Linked DNA regions of Homo sapiens. The protein of the gene in region 2 interacts with the protein of the main gene of each other region in a biochemical or structural test. Each region holds a gene or a part of one and is shown on either strand. Other genes may lie near its edges.

Region 1 (3,600 bases), on a different chromosome or scaffold from region 2:
CCAGCCTGGGCGACAGAGCAAGGCTCCATCTCGGGGGCGGGGGGGTGGGGAACAACTGTAATAAAAATAACACACTATGTAGTAACGTAATAAAATTATCACACTGTTAACACTAACTCAAAGAAAAAACAGAATATAAAATTGTATCTTCACTTCGAAATGAGCATTTAGAAGCAAGAGAAGGAACACAAAGTAAAAATACTTCATGTGAAATTAATTTTGTTTTGTTGTGCTTGCTCCATAAAAAAAGCTTAAGTAGTAAAAGCACTCTTTTTACTAACTGTACTTTCAAAGGCTCACGGTTAAACTTGTAAAAGATTCTCAAGTAACTGACCTTACACCTCATTTTTTTTTTTTTAAGAGAGATATGCAGGGACCTGGCTTCAAACGTTCAACCTGGGAGCAATTTCAAAAGTCGAGGCCTGAAATTTAGGCTTTACAGGTGCAAAAGTCCTAATACACGTAGGTAAAGTGGGAGGGGTAGTTTTCTGTCTAACCCCCTAGCCTCAAAAGGCAAAAGCCAGGTCAAAAGTAGGGATCAGTCCTCCTTGCTCTCAGCGGCGACTAGCCGGTGCTGTCAAGTGCAACAGTCTCCGAAGGAAAGGGACCGAGGACGCCACTCCGCCCGGAGAGGGTCTCAGTAAAACGTTTACCTCCCCTGCCGCCCCAGGGTCCTTGCCCGCCGAGTGCCCTTACCCATCCTCCTCAGAGCCGACAGGAGACTAGGATCTCGGACCTGGATAGCCCGATGATTCGCACTGGTACCGCGAGACGCACCGAGCTACCTCGCCGCGTTAGCGGCGTACCGAGTGCCTGCAGACCTGTGGGCAGCCATGACACTGCCAGGCCGGTCCTGATTGGTTCAGAGGACGAAGAGGTGGGCCCAGAGGAAAGCCCAGAGCTCCGGGAAAGGAAGCCAGTGCCCGGTGCGCTCTCGGCCCTGCTCCGATTGGCTCAGAGGGGAAAGGGGGCGTGCCCAGAAATAAGCACCTCCCAGAGTTCCAGGCGATGAAGGCGGAGCGCTTCCGCCTCCATTTGGATTGGCTCAGACTGGGAAAAGGCGGGCCCAGAGAGAAATGATTGGCATGGGAAAATTAAAAGAGGAAAGGAGCGGGGAGCGGGGGAAATGCTATGTGGGCCTGTTTGGATCTTAACTGAAATAAACCGACTGTAGAAAGGCATTATTTTTGGGAAACCCGAGGATGGACTCGCTATTAGATGATATTAAGGAATTGTAGTTAATCTCGTCGCGTGTATCTGTTAAGGGCTATAGGCTGAAGTATTTAATGCTGAAACCATATGATGGTTTCTTTAAAATACCCCCAACCGGCCGGGCGCTGTGACTCAAACCTGTAATCCCAGCACTTGGGAAGCCGAAGCGGGAGGATCGCTTGAGCCCAGGAGTTCGAGACCAGCCTGAGCAACATAGTGAGACCTCGTCTGTACAAAAAATTTTTTTTAATTATTTATTTAATTAAATTAGCTTGGCGTGGCCGCTCACACCTGTAGTCCCAGCTACTTGGGAAGCTAACGCTGGAAGATCGCTCGAACCCAGGAGGTCGAAGCTGCAGTGGGGCCATGACCCTGCCACTGCACTCCAGCCTGGGTGACAGAGTGAGACTGACTTAAAAAAAAAACTGTAAATAAAAAAGCAACAAAAAAATGAAAAAAGAATAAAACAAGGATGGCAAAATGTTGATAGCGGGGTGATGGGTACATAGAAGGTTCATTACACTTTTTTGTCTACATTTTATGTTAAAATATTTCTATTATAAAAGGGTGAGTAAATAAAAATATTTATTATAAAATAATTCTATTATAAAAAATATTTATATTATAAAGTGGGTCTGGCCCTTGAATTCCGCGGAACGAGGTGGTGCCAACGCTGTGTTTTAACCCGGTCACTAAACATCCGCGAGCATCCTGTCAGAGCTCTCAGCTCATTGGCGAAAGTAAATACGCCAAGGAAAAGCACCTCCCTTTTTGGGCGTGGAAAGATGGCGTAAAAAGCCACAATACGCAGGCGTCATCGCTCACTTTTCCCCTCCCGGCTTCTGCTCCACCTGACGCCTGCGCAGTAAGTAAGCCTGCCAGACACACTGTGACGGCTGCCTGAAGCTAGTGAGTCGCGGCGCCGCGCACTGGTGGTTGGGTCAGTGCCGCGCGCCGATCGGTCGTTACCGCGAGGCGCTGGTGGCCTTCAGGCTGGACGGCGCGGGTCAGCCCTGGTTCGCCGGCTTCTGGGTCTTTGAACAGCCGCGATGTCGATCTTCACCCCCACCAACCAGATCCGCCTAACCAATGTGGCCGTGGTACGGATGAAGCGTGCCGGGAAGCGCTTCGAAATCGCCTGCTACAAAAACAAGGTCGTCGGCTGGCGGAGCGGCGTGTGAGTAGCCCCCTCCCTCGGGCCTGGGCCTGGGCCTGAGCCGTCACCTCCGAGGCGGCCTGTCTCTGCCCAAGTCGAGTGAATGGGCCAGGCTGGGGTGTTGGCCGGGGAGGAAATGGAACATTCCTGCTGTGAGCATGAGACGTCGCTGTCCGAGCTTGGCGCCTAAGCCAAGGGTTTCTTCTTTATTTGGTTGGTTCGGATTGGGTTGTTGGTTTGGGGTTTTGTTTTGTTGGTGTCATAAAAGCTGCAGCCAAGAAATCTCGTAATTGTGGTCCTTTTCCTAGAATAATGATGGCTGAGAACCTAGTCTTACGAATACTGTCATAGTTGTGGGTACATCTGGTGTCATAGATCTCAGTAGCCCTAGCAGTTTAAAGTGCGTAGTGTCTTCACTGCTGCCATCTAGGGACTGGCATTCCGTGGCAGCAGCTGTCTGCACCCCACCCCACCCTTGTGTTTCTTACGTCCTCCCATGACATTTTTCTCCAGTGAGCAAATGGTAAGGCAAATACGGTTCTGAGTTTTGAAAATGTTCCCTCAGGCCGATGCGGGCAGTTCACTTGAGGCCAGGAGTTCGAGGCCAGCCTGGCCAACATGAAACCCCATCTCTACTAAAAATACAAAGTTAGCCGGGTGTGGTGGCGCATGCCTGTAATCCCAGTTACTCAGGAGGCTGAGGCGGGAGAATCACTTGAACCCGGGAGGCTGAGGTTACAGTGACCCGAGATCGCGCCATTGCACTCCAGCCTGGGCAAAAACAGTGAAATTCCATCTAGGGGCGGGGGTTGGGGGGTAAGAAAAAGAAAACTGCCCTCTACACTAAAGGTCATCAGGGGGATTTGTTGTGTCTTGCCGTTCATGTTGTTGCCATCTCGTATTTAAATGTAAATGCATGTCCAAGTTTCAAGTATATTCACATAGGACTTTCTCTCCTGCCCTCACAAGGGAAAAAGACCTCGATGAAGTTCTGCAGACCCACTCAGTGTTTGTAAATGTTTCTAAAGGTCAGGTTGCCAAAAAGGAAGATCTCATCAGTGCGTTTGGAACAGATGACCAAACTGAAATCTGTAAGCAGGTGGGTAACAGCTGCAGCATAGCTAACCCTAATAACCATTTATAACGTATTTGTAGATATATTAAACATTAAAGGCTGTTTTTCTGGAGGAAAGACTAACCAAGCAATAATGTGAACTGCACAGTGTCACTTC
Region 2 (4,129 bases):
TGGTTTATTTGCTCTTCTGTATATATTTTTAAATCAGCATATCAAGTTGAAATTTTTAAAAATCTGTTGGAATTTTTACTGGAATTGCTGAATCTACAGATCAATATTTTTTAAATGTCATTTAAAAAATAGACAGCCAATACGTAAATATGGTATATCCTTCCATTTAAGTTTTCTCCAATATCTCATAGGTTTTGTTGTTATTGTTGTTGTTTTTGAAGAGATGGCGTCTTGTGCTATCCACCAGGCCGGAGTGCAGTTGCTGTCACAGCTCTTTGCAGCCTCAAACTCCTGGGTTTATGCAACTGTCCTGCCTAGCTTCCCAAGTAGCTGGGATTACAGGCATGAGCCACCATGCCCGGCACAGGTACATTTATTATGCTATTTAAATGGTTTACGTTTTTAAATTACTGTATATTACCTATTTATTGCTCACGTATACTTCTTTTCAACAGTTTTCGTATCCTGAAACCTGCCAAATTGTTACTAATATCCTAGCAATTTATCTACATTTTTGTTTTCTTCCTTTCCAAAATTCACACTTTTTATTTTTCTTTCCAGCTTTATCACTGCAACTAGAACCTCCAGTACAATCTAAAGTAGAAGTTATAACACAATGAGCAGAAGGGTGTGACAGCCATTCTTGCCTTATTCCTGGCTATGAATAGAGAAGTTTTAACACTTCATCATTAAGTTCAATCTTCATTTTAGGTTTTTTATAAATATCCCACATCAGATTACAGAAGTTCTCTTCTGTAACTACATTGCAAAGAGGTTTTATCACAATAGATGTTGAATTTTACTACATGTCTTTATATCTGTTGAAATGATCATGATTTTCTTCCTTTAATCCATTAATATAGTGAAATTACATGTTAAACCAATCTTGAATTCCTTGGGATAAACTCGATTTGGATATGAATAATCATCTTTTTATACTATGCTGAATTGTTTGTTAATGAGGATGATAATTTTTGCATCCATAATCATAAGGTTGGTATATAATTCTCCTATATTGTACTATCCTTAACAGACTTTTGGTATCAAAGTTATGCTATCTTCATATGATTTGGAGAATACTGCCGATTGTTGGGTTTTTCTCTGCTATATTTTGAAATGGTTTAAGTAGGACTGAAATTATTCTTTGAATGTTTGGCAGAACTAGAGAGTTAAACCATCTGGGTCTTTACTTTATGGAAAGATTTTTGCCAGCCAATTCAATTTCTTAAATGACTATAGAATAATTCAAGTTTCCTATTTCTTCTTGACTCCATTTTAGCAAGTTATGTTTTCCAGACATTTTTCCATTTTAGCACTTTTAAGTTTACTGGCACAGAGTTGTTCATTATATCCTATTATTACCTTATTAACTTCTGCAGCATTTTTCTTTCTGGGTATCACATATTTCTGCCTCCTCTCTTTTCTTCTTGATCATCTTGCTGGTGTTTTGTCAGTTGTGTTACTCTTCTTTAAAGTCATTCATTCAAAAATATTTATTTATATATACTATGCTTTCTATATGTCCAAAGTACAGTGAGCCACATTAGGAACATTACCAGGTCAAAAGTGTCAAATGTTCCTCAACAATGTCAATGAAAAACAAAACAAAAAAGTTTCCTAGTCAAGAGAATCAAAAATTGTCTATATTGCTAGTAATTGTTTAAATTAATAACTTTATATTTTTAGAGCACCTTTAAGTTTACAGAAAAATTGACTGAAGGTTCCCACATACTCTCTCCTCCCACCCACACAGTTTCCCCTATTATATCTATCTTGTATTAGCATATGGTGTGATACCTTTGTTACAACTGATGAACCAATATTGATGCATTATGATTAATTAAAGTCCATAGTTTACATTAGGGTTCACTCTTTGTATTTGTTAGCTGGGTTAATCTTTTCCAAAAACAAACTTCTGGCTTCACTGATCCTTTCTATAAAATGTCTGTTTACTATTTCATTAATTTATGCTTTACTATTTCCTTTCATCTACTTACTTCAGTTTTGTACTTTCTCTAAATTCTCAAGTGGGGAAAATATAAGCATTTCATTATTTCACTCAACCTAGTTTTCTTCAGCCTCCTCTAGATAGTATCTTGGGCCAGCTTCCCTCCCAACCCACACATCAATTCCCAAATCGATCTTCAAGTCTATTGGGTCTACCCTGTGGATTCAATTTTGCTTCTCCGTCTCCTCTTCTCTCTATTCTCTGTCACCTGATAAACCCTATTGATCATATCCTAAATTCATTATGGAAACGAATATATCTTTATTTTTCTACTGCCAAGTAAATTATTCCAAGCCCTTTCAACTCATAGCTACAAATAAAGATCTCTTTAATTTTATTTCCTCAAACGCTATTTTCAGGCTAGGTGTGGTGACTCACACCTGTAATTCCAGCACTTTGGGAAGTCAAGGCAGGAGGATTGCTTGAGCCCAGGAGTTCAAGATCAGCCTAGGGAACATGGCAAAACCCTGTCTCTACAAAAAATTAGCCAGGTGTGGTGGTGTGCACCTGTAGTCCCAGGTACCCAAGAGGCTGAGGTGGGAGGATCACCTGAGCCCAACAGGGCGAGGTTGCAGTGAGCCGTGCATGATCACACCACTGCACTCTAGCCTGGGCAACAGAGTGAGATCCTGTCTCAAAAACAAAAACCAAAAAACCCACTATTTTCATCACAATCCTCAGGCACAAGCAGCTTTCCTTTGATACTTAGGTTAACTTTTAAGGTCTTCTATAATCTTATTCTCCCTGCCAGTATGTTTTCTCTGTCACTAGTCTCTAGGCAAACACTCCACTCAAATAGAGCACAACACACAAATTAGCCTTTATCCGTCTTATTTCCCACTACCTGGTAGCTTTTCTGTCTTCTCCTCAAACCACTCAACTCATTCACCTACAAAGAATCTCTTGCGCTGTGAAATCTTCCACAATGGTGTATCATTTGCTTGCTGCAAAAACTCACTTTTGCACTTAGGATAAAGCAATACAAAGCAATACAGAAGTAACTATTTTTCTCCTCAGCATTTTTATCTTGCAAAATGGATTGGCAGCTTTTAGACGCAAGAATTATGTTTTATACCCTTTTGGATGGCTGAAGAACACAGAAAATGGTTCATCACATTGTTGATAGCTAATACTGAAATGCAACAAGTATTTATAAAATAATAACATACCTTGCCTGCTAGGCGGCTGGAGATGATTCCATTGCTAGATATAAGACAGTCAGCCAGAGTAGTTTTTCCTGTTAAAATAGCAACATCAATTCAAATCTATATCTTTTTTAAAAGGGGTCATGGATCATACCTATAGATTTAAAATCTGGTCATAAGAATTGGTTTAGTAAAGATTTTCTATTTACCTATGCTAGGTGACAAAAGAGATTTATTAGACTTTTGAACAGAATATCATCTGGAAGGACACAGAGGCTAGCACTCTATAATGCTGTAATCTTATCTCCAACCCTGTGGATCTACTCAACCTCATCTGAAAAGTTGTCAAGTAACTTTAGAGAACATACTCTTTTGCCATATTTCCCCATGCATGGCCTCAGCTGGAATTTGCTAAACTGTCTTAAGAAAATACTTACTTATCAAAGAAATTCAGGAACATTATCCATATCTCTTACTGTTTGTAATATAGCATGTGGAGGGCATAAACATACTGTAACAACCAATGAAACCTAGTATCCAAATCTAAACCTAGGAATCTACTTTAAAGCAAAAGAATCTTCGAATATATTTATAGTTACTTTTATTAAGCAGACTACATACAACTAAAGTCTATGAGATTTTATGTGATATAAACAGGTGATTCTGTGTAAAGAATGTCAGGGGTATGCATAATTACTACAACTGGGTTGGAGTAAGCAAAGGAGGGTTTTTTTCCTTCAAGACAAGTCTTTATTGCACTTTAGGAACTTCAGCAAAGCTATGGAATCTCTGTATTGTTCAAACCAGAGACCAATGAGTAGGAGAACTGAAGATATTTAACACTGCTATCTGTCTGCAATGTAAATATGTATTAGCATATAATCCTAGAGCATCACTTTCCTGCTACCCAGTAAAGCTGAATTTATTCTAAGTACACCAAGTATATACCTCCCTAGAAAATAATTATCAAGCAAGC

What was found.
Region 1: the proteins of EFL1 (region 2) and SBDS interact in a biophysical measurement, tested with the Homo sapiens proteins (2 studies listed by BioGRID and IntAct, with this or other methods).

The regions. Positions count from the first base shown.
Region 1 is NC_000007.14:66,994,079-66,997,678, reverse strand, and holds the start of SBDS (ribosome maturation protein SBDS), read left to right. Parts: upstream 1-2,092; 5' UTR 2,093-2,261; coding exon 2,262-2,389; intron 2,390-3,337; coding exon 3,338-3,467; intron 3,468-3,600. Other genes in the region: S-adenosyl-L-methionine-dependent tRNA 4-demethylwyosine synthase TYW1, read right to left, coding at 697-700. UniProt on the Homo sapiens protein: Required for the assembly of mature ribosomes and ribosome biogenesis.
Region 2 is NC_000015.10:82,255,911-82,260,039, forward strand, and holds part of EFL1 (elongation factor-like GTPase 1), read right to left. Parts: intron 3,246-4,129; coding exon 3,178-3,245; intron 1-3,177. UniProt on the Homo sapiens protein: GTPase involved in the biogenesis of the 60S ribosomal subunit and translational activation of ribosomes.